Linked DNA regions of Homo sapiens. The protein of the gene in region 2 interacts with the protein of the main gene of each other region in a pairwise test. Each region holds a gene or a part of one and is shown on either strand. Other genes may lie near its edges.

Region 1 (3,654 bases), on a different chromosome or scaffold from region 2:
ACATTATAAAGAGAGCACACATACAAAAGTCATTAAGTTGGTCAGAGAGCAAAGGATGTCACAGAACACCGCACTGAGAGCACACTGGTGTGAATTCATTTCAGTTACGAAAGTATGTCCAGAGTTTGTGTTACACATTTACTGAGGTAAAGGCACGATCACTTCCACGTAATTAATGGGGAAGAATCCCGATTCTCCGTGTATCATTCCTTCATACCAGTTTTCATCTATTTGATTGGTTAATGTAATGATGTCCCCTTCTTTAAATCCTAATTCTCCTTGGTTTTCTGGCTCAAAGTCATAGAGACCACGACAGCAGGGCTGGTCCATGGGAATGTTAGAACCTGTCCACATGATATGGAGACAAAAAGTACAGATGAACATGATGGATTATCCATGGGAAATTGGAAATGTGGAAAAGCTCAGAGAGACCCTTAACAGCAGGCCTTGCTTCCTTCCCACAAGGCCAGCTCCACCCAGCTCACGGTGCCGTTTGTGGTCTCTGGCTGCCTCAGCTCTCCCAGCTGCCTGCGCCAACCCCATGAGCCCAGAGTCTATCTTTTCAATACTCCCAGGCAGAGAAGTCGTGCCCAGCCCATCTCCCAAAAGCAGCCAGTCAGCTCCACCTGGAGCCCTAAGGGAGCGACAGAGGAATCACAGGCCCACCTCCTTCTCTCTGGGAGCTTACAGTTTCTTTGTGGGGATTAGAAAATACACGAGAAACTTTTATTTATTTATTTATCTATTTTTGAGACAGAGTCTTGCTCTGTTGCCCAGGCTGGAGTGCAATGGTGCGATCCTGGCTTACTGTAACCTCTGCCTCCCAGGTTCAAGAAATTTTCGTGCCTCAGCCTCCCAAGCAGCTGGGACTACAGGCATGCGCCACCACGCCCAGCTAATTTTGTATTTTTAGTACAGGTGGGGTTTCACCATATTGGCCAGTCTGGTCTCGAACTCCTGGCCTTAAGTGATCTGCTCACCTCAACCTCCCAAAGTGTGGGGATTACAGGCGTGATCCACTGTGCATGGCCAAAAATCTTTTAAAGAACAAATATGAAGTGTGTATCACTCATGGTTCAGGAGCTCTGGGGAGAGGGTAGTAGGGAGGACCTTGGTGGTCAGCAAGATCTTCCTAGTTAATGGGCAGGACAAGGGCCGGGAGGAGAGAAACCAGGACAAGAAAGGCAAGAATATTTACAGACCAGAATTTACAGACAAGAATATTTACTGACATCTAGTCCCAGAATAACATCAAAAACATTTTTTTCAAAACAAAATCATGCTAATTGTAAACAAAAAATACATGTATGCAAAGTGGAGAAAGAAAAGTCAGAGCTGTAAACCATTACCCCAGAGATAACTGGGCTAGCTTTCAGATTCCAGATGTCTTCATGATTATATTTGTGCATATATTTACATATAGTTGTTTTCATAAAAGATTCTTCTTGTACAAGCTAGGGTGAATATCTTTCAATTTTAGTTACTGACTAGCTGTCAGCTCTCACAATGTAACATTTCTTCAACTAATCTCCTATTGTTGGACATTTACGGTTCTTCTTTCTTTTCCTTCCTTCTCTTCTTTTCATCTCTTCTTTTCCTTCCTTCCTTCATTCTTTTCTTCCTTCTCCCTCCCTGTTTTTCTCGATTTCTCTTCCTTTTTCTTCATTTCTTTCTGTTGTCTCTTTTATTCCCCCTTGGCTTTTATAGACAATTCTTTGGGAAAAAGAGCTTATACATAAATATCTACAAATGTGCACTATTAATTTCTGAGGATAAATTCCAAGAAAAGGATTTCATGGTCATAGAACATGAATTCTTTCTAAAATATCTGACATTTAGTGTCAATTTATTTTTCTATTAGGTTGGTGCAAAAGCAATCACAGTGGCCAGGCGCAGTGGCTCACGCTTGTAATCCCAGCACTTTGGGAGGCTGAGGCGGGCGGATCACGAGTTCAGGAGATCGAGAACACAGTGAAACCCTGTCTCTACTAAAAATACAAAAAAATTAGCCGGGCGTGGTGGCGGGCACCTGTAGTCCCAGCTACTTGGAGAGGCTGAGGCAGGAGAATGGCGTGAACCCGGAAGGCGGAGGTTGCAGTGAGCCAAGATCGCGCCACCGCACTCCAGCCTGGGGGACAGAGCAAGACTCCATCTCAAAAAAAAAAAAAAAAAAAGCAATCACAATTTTTACCATTACTTTTAGTGGCAAAACCTGCAATTACTTTTGCACCAACCTAATATCACTATTTTTCTTAAGATGTTTAGAAGTCCCTTTATACTACACATATTTACCCTTTATCTGTCATTTCTGGTACAAACATTATTCCCAACTTATCATCTGTTCTTTTTTTTTCTCATTTTGTTTTTGAAGTTTGTGCTGGCAGTGGGGCAGGGAAAGGGGTTTCTATTTTGTTTTGGCATGAATGCACAAATTGAAGAGTATAAGCAGTCAAACTAATCAAACTTTCTATTCATGGTTTATTCTCCACAGTCCTATATAAAGACTCAACTAAATTTTATTCTAGTATTTTTATTTAATTTTTTTCACATCAGAACTTTTATAATCTATTTGGATTTTGGCAAAATGAGGTAAATATCTATTATATTTAATAATGCTTATGCAGTCATAACAACATACTTAAATAATCCATATTTTCTCCAGTGATTTCAAGTATTGCCTTTATCTTTATCATATATTTAATCATCATGGGACTTAGATCTATTTTTGGATTTTTTCTATTTTGTCCCACTGACTCATTTTGGTAACAGTACCATATCATTTTAAATACTGTGGCTTTATAATAAATGTTAACAGGCCGGGTGTGGTGGCTCACACCTGTAATCCCAGCACTCTGGGAGGCCAAGGCGGGCAGTTCACTTGAGGCCAGGAGTTTGAGACCACCCTGGCCAACATGGTGAAACCCCATCTCTAAAAATACAAAAGTTAGCCAGGCATGGTAGCGCATGTCTGTAATCCCAGCTACTCAAGAGGCTGAGGCAGGAGGATCACTTGAACCTGGGAGGCGGAGGTTGCAGTGAGCTGAGATCACACCACTACACTCCAGCCTGGGTGACAGAGTGAGACTCCATCTCAAAAATAAATAAATAAATAAAATGTTAATAACTAGTAAAACTAGTTCATAGTCATTACCCTTCTATTTCAATATTTCCTTGCTATTCTCATGAATTCATTTAACTAGGTATATTTCAGTATTAATATGACACATTTCTCTCACAAAAATCTCACTTCAATTTTGACTAGTTCATACTTTTTTTCTTTGAGTATTAATAAGATTAATCTTAGGAGTTTTTTTTTTTCTTAATAAGTGACTTTTGCCATCCTATTTGATGATTTCCATTTTTATTTCCTTTTTCTGTTATAAGACTTTTTCCTCCCTCTAGACTTCAAGTGAGAATTGAACAAGTTCTGCTAGAGATTATGTTCTTTCTCCACTAAGTCTTCTAGGTCCAAGTAAAGAGAATAGGTACGTTGGGGTATTTCTGTGGCTGGCCAAATGAGATGCCCCTTTGTCCTGGGGAGGGGTAGAGAGGTGACAGCATTATGGGAGGAGGAAGACAAGAGTTGGGGCAATGGAGATTCCTGTTGTGAGAAGGATTATATTATAGTTGTTTAGACAGCTTGAAATTCATGGA
Region 2 (3,654 bases):
TGTTGAGTTAAAAAACAAAACAAAACATTTTGACCCCACTGTGATTTTGCCTCTCCCCTCCCAACCAAAACAACAACAGTGTGACAAGGATCCACTGAGGGTCCACTGGGAGTAATTAATCCATGTCTCCCAGTGCTAGAATTGGTGAATTTTCCCTGAGTGGCCACGTCAGAGTTGCAGAGCAGTCACGGTTATAAATAAGCAGAGTGGCACCAGTTACACTGGGGTCAGAGGGATTAGGCATCCCTATTTGGACCATTTGAACCCCAGTGAGATACCAGGGGCCAAAGGCCATGTTTCCATGGTTACAGGCCATGCTGATCTTCTTTGTCTTTGTGAGGAGAGTTGGTGAGAAGGTGCCGGATATACCTCAGCCCTCCTGTACCACCTGACATGACTGGAAGAGGCACTGCTCTTCTTGGCTGGCGAGCATCTTCTCAGCTCTGGATGGCACCTCTGGCGGGTTTCTTTTTGAGGCAGGTGGCAGCAGTTTAGTTAGATCCATGGATTCTATGATCTATGGATTCTGGGCTCAGACATGCCTTGCTCTGCACCTCAGCTGGTCTGGCAGATACCACTGCCATCTAGTGAAGATTTGGGTTTCTAGCCATGAGCCCAGGTGCCTGTGAGGATCTGCAGTGAAGCCTAGATGCTGGAAGAAGCTGCAGAAAAGGGAAATCGAGGAGACAGCTTGAGCAGGTGCCTTACCCTGTCCATTGGAGCTTCCAGGTGCCTGATGCCTCAGCAGCTGTCTGGATATCTGAAGCTCCTCAAAACCAAGAAGAAAAATGTTCAAAGAGCTCATTGTTATAATGCTGCTTACTTCAGACTTGAAGCCATCCTTGGATATCATCTGAAATGCATGGTTTCCCCGAAGTGGAGAACCCCTCAAAAGAGGCTTTGCTCACTTTCGTCTATTGAATAGGCAGAAAAAGAAGCAAACAGTCCATTCCAAATTTCAAGAATTTAAACTCGTATGAACCCTTCAAACTCTGGAACTTGGCCTTCACCCAGCCTCACATCAGAAGTGCTCTCTACTCTGAGGTCATTCTGACAAACTTCATTTTATCAAATTCCATTAAATATAATTGTTTGGCAATCTACTGACAATAGTGCTTTTTGCTTTGCAAACATTAAAAATTTCCACTGCCACCTGCCCAAATAGAAACTTTCTGTTTTTTTCAAAAAAAAAAAATCAAAATATGGTTCTAGCTCTGTTGACAAGGAATTTACCCCTAAGGTGGTATTTAGCAGAGGTACTGTATACTCTGGGCCTCTTACAGTTTACCAAAGCAGGAGTCACAGATGGCTTTTATTTCTTAAGATAAAATGATGAAAACCTAGTTGTTTTGAGTGTTCTTTGCCTGGAAGACACAGCCCTTCACAATGACTTATTGTCCCTCCGGAAGATGGACAAAATGTAAGTGAATTATGAGGGGTTTGTGTACAATCATCCCTTGAGATCTGAGGGGGATTGGTTCCAGGAACCCCATGGATACCAAAATTCGAGCATGTTCAAGTCCCTGATATAAACTGGTGCAGTATTTGCAAATAACTTATGCACATCTTCCATACACCGTATACTATAAATGTAATATCTCTAGATTACGAATATCTATTATAATGTAAATGCTACACAAATATTTGTTATACTGCATTGTTCGATTTGTGTTATTTTTAATTTTTGTATTCTTATTTTTATCATGTATTTAAAAAAATATTGTCATGAATTTGGAGGGCCAACTGTATTCCATTATTCCCTAGCATATGCACTTGTTTATTTCTGAGATGGAGTCTTGCTCTGTCGCCCAGACTGGAATCCAGTGGCCTGATCATGGCTCACTGTAGCCTTGACCTCCCAGGCTCAAGCGATCCTCCCTCCTCAGCCTCCCGAATAGCTGGGACACAGGCACACACCACCATGCTTGGCTAATTGTTTTACTTTTTGTAGAGATGGGGCTTCCCTATGCTGCCCAGACTGGTCCTGAACTCCTGGCCTCAAGTGATCTGTCTGCCTCAGCCTCCCAAAGTGTTGGGATTACAGGCATGAGCCACTGTGCCAGGCCGACATATGCATCTTTCTAGGATTAAAGTGAGTAGTGCAGGTGTCTCTTCTGGCCATGGTGGGCCCTCCCTGCTGATTTTGACTGCATGAGCTATGCTTCAGGCTGGCAAAAATACAGGTTGGCCCATGCCAGGCACATTGTTTAGTTCCTGGATGTGCCCCTGTGCTGTACCATGTCGAATCCCAAACAGGAGCCCCTCACCACCCAGGATTTAGCGCATCCCTCCTTGCTGCCTCTCCCTCTTGAGTCTTGGTTTGGACGCCTCGGATCTTCCCAAGGAAAAGGCCTCCACAACCCACTCAGCAGGAAAGGCCCCTAAAAACTGGCAGCAGGAGAAAGAGAGCCTTGAGCCCATTTGTCCTGCCCATCCCTGACCTGGCAGGAGGGGTGAGGGAGCCTAACCCGCCTCACACTGATCTCCACCTCCTCCGCTTGCAGCCCTGCCTGTCTTGCAAGGTCACCTGCCAACCTTGTAACATGCCTTGTAAACCACCCTTTTATGAAATTTAAACATTTATTATGAGGATTTTAAAACATACATCATCATAGGAAACATATAAACACAACAAAATAGAGAGAATGGTAAAATGAGGCCCCAGGGACAAATGGCCCGCCACCCAACTTCAACAGCCATCAGCTCAGTGCCATCTGCACCCCACCCCCGCCTTGCACTATTTAGGAGTGGTTTCCAGACTTTCGGGTTTTGCCTGTTGCTCTTCTGTGGACTTGTGTGGGCCTGCCTTTGCCCTGGTGTGGGTCAAGCAGTGGCCTGGATGTCCAAATTCCTTCTAGACATGAAGGCCCTCCTCACGCAGTGGGAATGAGGGCCTCAAGTTGGCACGTGGTGACTGTCCTTCAGGAATGAACTTACAAATGTGTTAGTGGAGCTCTAGAATTGTGCAGGTCTGGGTGGTGCCTCCGCCTCAGTGCTTGGAGAGCACACCATGTTCTTGACTAATAAGTTGCAGCCTTGGGCTTAACAGTGATACCAAATATGGCCAAGTGGTTCAGGGTCCCGTTATGTGCTCAGACGTCCTGGATTTGACTCTGTGGTCCCTGAGAAGCACTGAGAGCTGTGAGGAGGGGCAGGCCTCCTAGTCCTCAGGTGGGGAGGTGGGAGTCACACCTCTCAACCTCCTCTGCTCAGTGTCCGGCAGGGCCTCTTCCAGCATCAGAGGAGCCTTCTGGAAATGGGTGTTCTCCCAAGTTGTTTTTAATAGTATTAGTCAGGGTTCTTCAGAGAAACAGAACCAAGAGTTGCTTATTAAAAAAGAGATTTATTATAAGGAATTGGCTTGCATAATTTTGGAGGCAGGCAAGTCCCAAGATCTGCAGGGTGGGCCAGACCCAGGAAAGCTTATGGTGTCAGTTCCAGTTCTGATGCTGTCCTGCTTGAGACCCAGGAAAAGCCAATGTTTCAGTCTGATCTGAAGGTGGGAAAAAATAGTGTCCCAGCTTGAAGACAGCCCAACAAGAGGAATTCTCTCCTATCCAGGGGAGGGGTCAGGCTTTTTGTTTTATTCAGGCCCTCAACTGATTGGACAAGGGCCACACAAATTGGGGAAGGCCATCTGTTTATTCAGTTTAT
Region 3 (3,654 bases), 4.2 Mb from region 2:
TAACAACTCTGGGTCCTGAGTTTATAGAGTAATGGTGCATAGAGTTTCTGCCCAATTCTAATCTCAATATCCAGTTAGTATTTATTAAAGGAAGAAAATAAACTAATAGTGTCTGGAAAATGTTCCCCTACCCCAGAACCCAAGAGGCTGAAATGTCAGAGATGTCTAACATGCTTGGTGATTCCCAGTGATGTTCTTAGCACCAAAGAAAGCACAAGAGTACAAAAGGGGGAGGATATTTTATTTCATTCTTCTCTGTATGATGCATCCAAATTTGACAAATAGGGACAAAAACTTCTGGCTCAGGTGACCCATCTCTACTATTCAGTTTTTAATAAACAAAAAGCTCATAAAGGCTAAGTTGGCTTCCATTGGCCTTAGATTTCCTCACTCTTCCTTCAGCAGTGACAGGTCATCAGTGTTCAATGGACAGAGACTTCTCTTATGGTCTTACTTGATGTCTGAAGGTGGTGGCAACAGTCACCCTCAGGGTCGATACTCAAACTGCAATCAGTGTGGCACAGACACTGACCAACCAGAAAGGATGTGGGTAGTAAATATGGGTGCAGCTATTTCAGCACATTTCTGGTTTGGCAAATATCTGCCCTGTTTATAACTCTGTGACCCCCAGGTGCCCAGGACTTTGGGAGAGGGAATCTGCTGACATACACAGAGGACCTGTTGTTTCCAGATGCTTTGGAGGACTTGCGGTATGAGGGTAGAATGATCTCACCAGGTCTGGGCAGCCCACATGGCAATGCCAAGGAGAGGACTGCTTTGGGCCATGCAGGGATGCTGCTGCCACCTTGCAGAGGTGGGCAAATGACCCTTCTGTTTATGTGCCAGAAAAGGCTGGGCACTTTGGCACACACATTTTCAAAGATTGTTAACCCCTAGAATAAAGCATCTCTAGTCTCCTTGCCATTCTCTGAAGCCATAATTGGAATGTACCATATGGTTTAGAAAACATCTATACACGTCTGGTGTCATTTAATTGTGTGAGCAAACCATAAAGAACTCAGGACTCTTGGTGGCACCTCTAGCCTACAGATGATGAAATTGCTCCTGGCAATTATGTGACCTTGCCTGGGTGGTGCAGATAGGACAGAGGTCTACACATTTTAACAGACCATTTTCATCCACACAGCAAGCATTTTATGGGAACCTCTTAAGATACAAACATGGCATTGTTTTGCTTACCTAACATGCAAAAAAAAATGGGTAAGATGAAATCAAAGGGAAAAATAATCCCTTCTGCTATACATCTTATTTTTAACCTTACCTCTCTCATTTTAACCTTCTTCCTACCCTATAAAGAAGAGCTCATTTCATCATTGTTCATGTCAGCATAGTGCTATGGTGCAACCAGCTCCACTGTGCATTTTGGTGTTGCTGTTCTTTCTCGTTAGATAAAATAGAACCCCAGTGGTCAAAGTGGGCTTAGAGAAGTAGGAATCTTAAAATAAAGACTGGGACCTGGTCTTCTTGTTATGCTGTCTGAGTTGTGTTATTTTAACAACCCCAGAAGTTCCTAGATCAAATATGTCAAATGTACTGTAAATTGCAACCCTCTTCAATTCAAGGAGATCCATCAGGGACTGAGGCTTATTAAAGTATGTGAGGAGTTTGGCAGGAAAGAACAAACTTAACTTTGGTAAATTAAACTATTTGAATGTATGTTTGTGGGAGAGATAACCATTTATATATGTCTCAGGTAAGACAGCTAAAAATACACTTTGAGGTGTGTTAATCTAGCAAGATCTCAGGATTTCCATATCTACCTGGATATTCACAGCTGCAATGCAGTGGATGACAATAGCTGGTTTCCAATCGCTCACTTACCTGTTTCCTACTGGGGTAACCTGGACTAGTTGCCAAATCTCTCTGTGGCCAAGGTTTAATAATTATATGTAAGTAATAATGTATACCTCCTAATGTTGTTGGGAGGTATTTACTCAAGCAGGCATTTGTGAAAGTGTTTTCTAAGTCTTAAAGTATTAATGCTTTTGAGGTGTGGCTTTCTTCTCTGGAACCTTCACTCTCTTACTTACTCCAGAAGCAGCCATTCTGGAGACATTAAGAAGAATCATCATATGTCACTCTCCTGAACTCTTCATTTGGCCTTAACCAAGTGGCTCCTTTGATAGCAGCACCCACTTTTTTTGGTCATTAGCAATGCAAGATAGAAAACCTGATACTGGTTCTCTATCCTGAATTGCTAATAGCCAAGAAAAAGCTTCTGTTTCCTTTAAAGAAGAGAGAGAGAACAAAAGATTCACGTTTTGATTTACATGTTTTCTCATCTGATCATTTATTTTCTGCTTGCTGTCTCTTTGGGGCAGATTTTTCACTCTAATTCTTTCAAGAATCCCTTCTGGGATTTCACGCATGCTGTTATAAATAATGCTTTCCTTGTTCAGATGTCAAATGGGTGAGTGGTGGGACAATCTAATAAAAGTTCAGACAGGGTTCACAAGTTTTCTAAGCCCATTTAGTACATTTCTGAACATTTCTTTTGCAACCCTTTCTCAGAATTTTGAAGCATGTCACAAAAGTAGACCCTCCCCCCAAAAAAGTCACTGTTGTTACAAATTACTGTCACATTCTAGTTATAGTCACTTGATGGTTTTTGGACCACACAAACAACACACTGTGCAGCAACAAACACAATGAGACATTTGTTTTGTATCGTACTACTTGGCAACTTGCCCTCATGCCCTTGCTTAAATATTTGTGAGATGGAATGTGATCCCAGGAATGACACTGAGAGTCAGAATTCCTGCTCTCAGCCTGATATGCTGTGGGGCCTCAGGGGCTCTCCAGTAATTAAGTTGAATGGGGTCTCATGGTCTTCACTAAACTCACCAGGTTGACCTGGTGCAAGATGAGAAACCCAGTTATCTGGAGAGTTGACTTGGACTTGCAATTTTTATTTTCCTCAACCCAAGAGACTGGAGTTCTAGTTCTTGTGCTGCTGCTATTAACCAGCTTGAGCAGGTACCCTCAGGTCTGGCTTCTGTCTTTATTGGTAAAATGTGAAGAGTTAGGGCAGCCCTTGGTTACTTCCAGCACAAAAACGCCGTGGTTCCGGAATCACCCACCACCTCAGTGCCACCGTAATCATCCATCAACACTCAGTCTTCAACATTTACGAAGAATTTCTATTCAATTATCTCACTTGAACCCAACAGTTATGCTCTACAGCAGACATGGACTTGCCTGGATAGTGCAAGTAATGCCCCTAAAAGTCAGTCAGTTTAAGTAGTTTACCTAAAGCCACATACCAAACCTTTCCCCATTGGACATCCTGTATTCATTAGGATGGACCACTCTGCTTTTCTGCTTTCTCCAGTCTCCACACACACTCTGTGTTCAGCCAGCAAGCTTAGGTGGCTTCCTACCCAGGGCCAAGTTACTCATGCCTCTTAGAAAGTTTGATCTTCTTCCCTTTCTCCCTACTTCCCAAAGGTCTCCTTTATGAAGGCAAGCTCAAGTCCCACCACTTCAAGAAAAAACTCTCCCTTCCTGCTGCAGCTCAGGGATGGTTCTAGTGCTCTTCGTGTAGCTCTGGGAACACAGAAGGAACTCCTTTCTTTGCCTAACGTATCACATGCCTCAAGAGGGATGGACACGGAATCAGTTCTTTCTGGTGGG

The links.
Region 1: the proteins of SHC3 (region 2) and SH3GL3 interact in a two-hybrid assay, tested with the Homo sapiens proteins (one large-scale study listed by BioGRID and IntAct).
Region 3: the proteins of SHC3 (region 2) and NTRK2 interact in a two-hybrid assay, tested with the Homo sapiens proteins (one study listed by BioGRID).

What each region holds. Positions count from the first base shown.
Region 1 is NC_000015.10:83,614,772-83,618,425, reverse strand, and holds part of SH3GL3 (endophilin-A3), read right to left. Parts: intron 345-3,654; coding exon 139-344; 3' UTR 1-138. UniProt on the Homo sapiens protein: Implicated in endocytosis. May recruit other proteins to membranes with high curvature.
Region 2 is NC_000009.12:89,168,776-89,172,429, reverse strand, and holds part of SHC3 (SHC-transforming protein 3), read left to right. Parts: intron 1-3,654. UniProt on the Homo sapiens protein: Signaling adapter that couples activated growth factor receptors to signaling pathway in neurons. Involved in the signal transduction pathways of neurotrophin-activated Trk receptors in cortical neurons.
Region 3 is NC_000009.12:85,015,582-85,019,235, reverse strand, and holds part of NTRK2 (BDNF/NT-3 growth factors receptor isoform a precursor), read right to left. Parts: intron 1-3,654. UniProt on the Homo sapiens protein: Receptor tyrosine kinase involved in the development and the maturation of the central and the peripheral nervous systems through regulation of neuron survival, proliferation, migration, differentiation, and synapse formation and plasticity.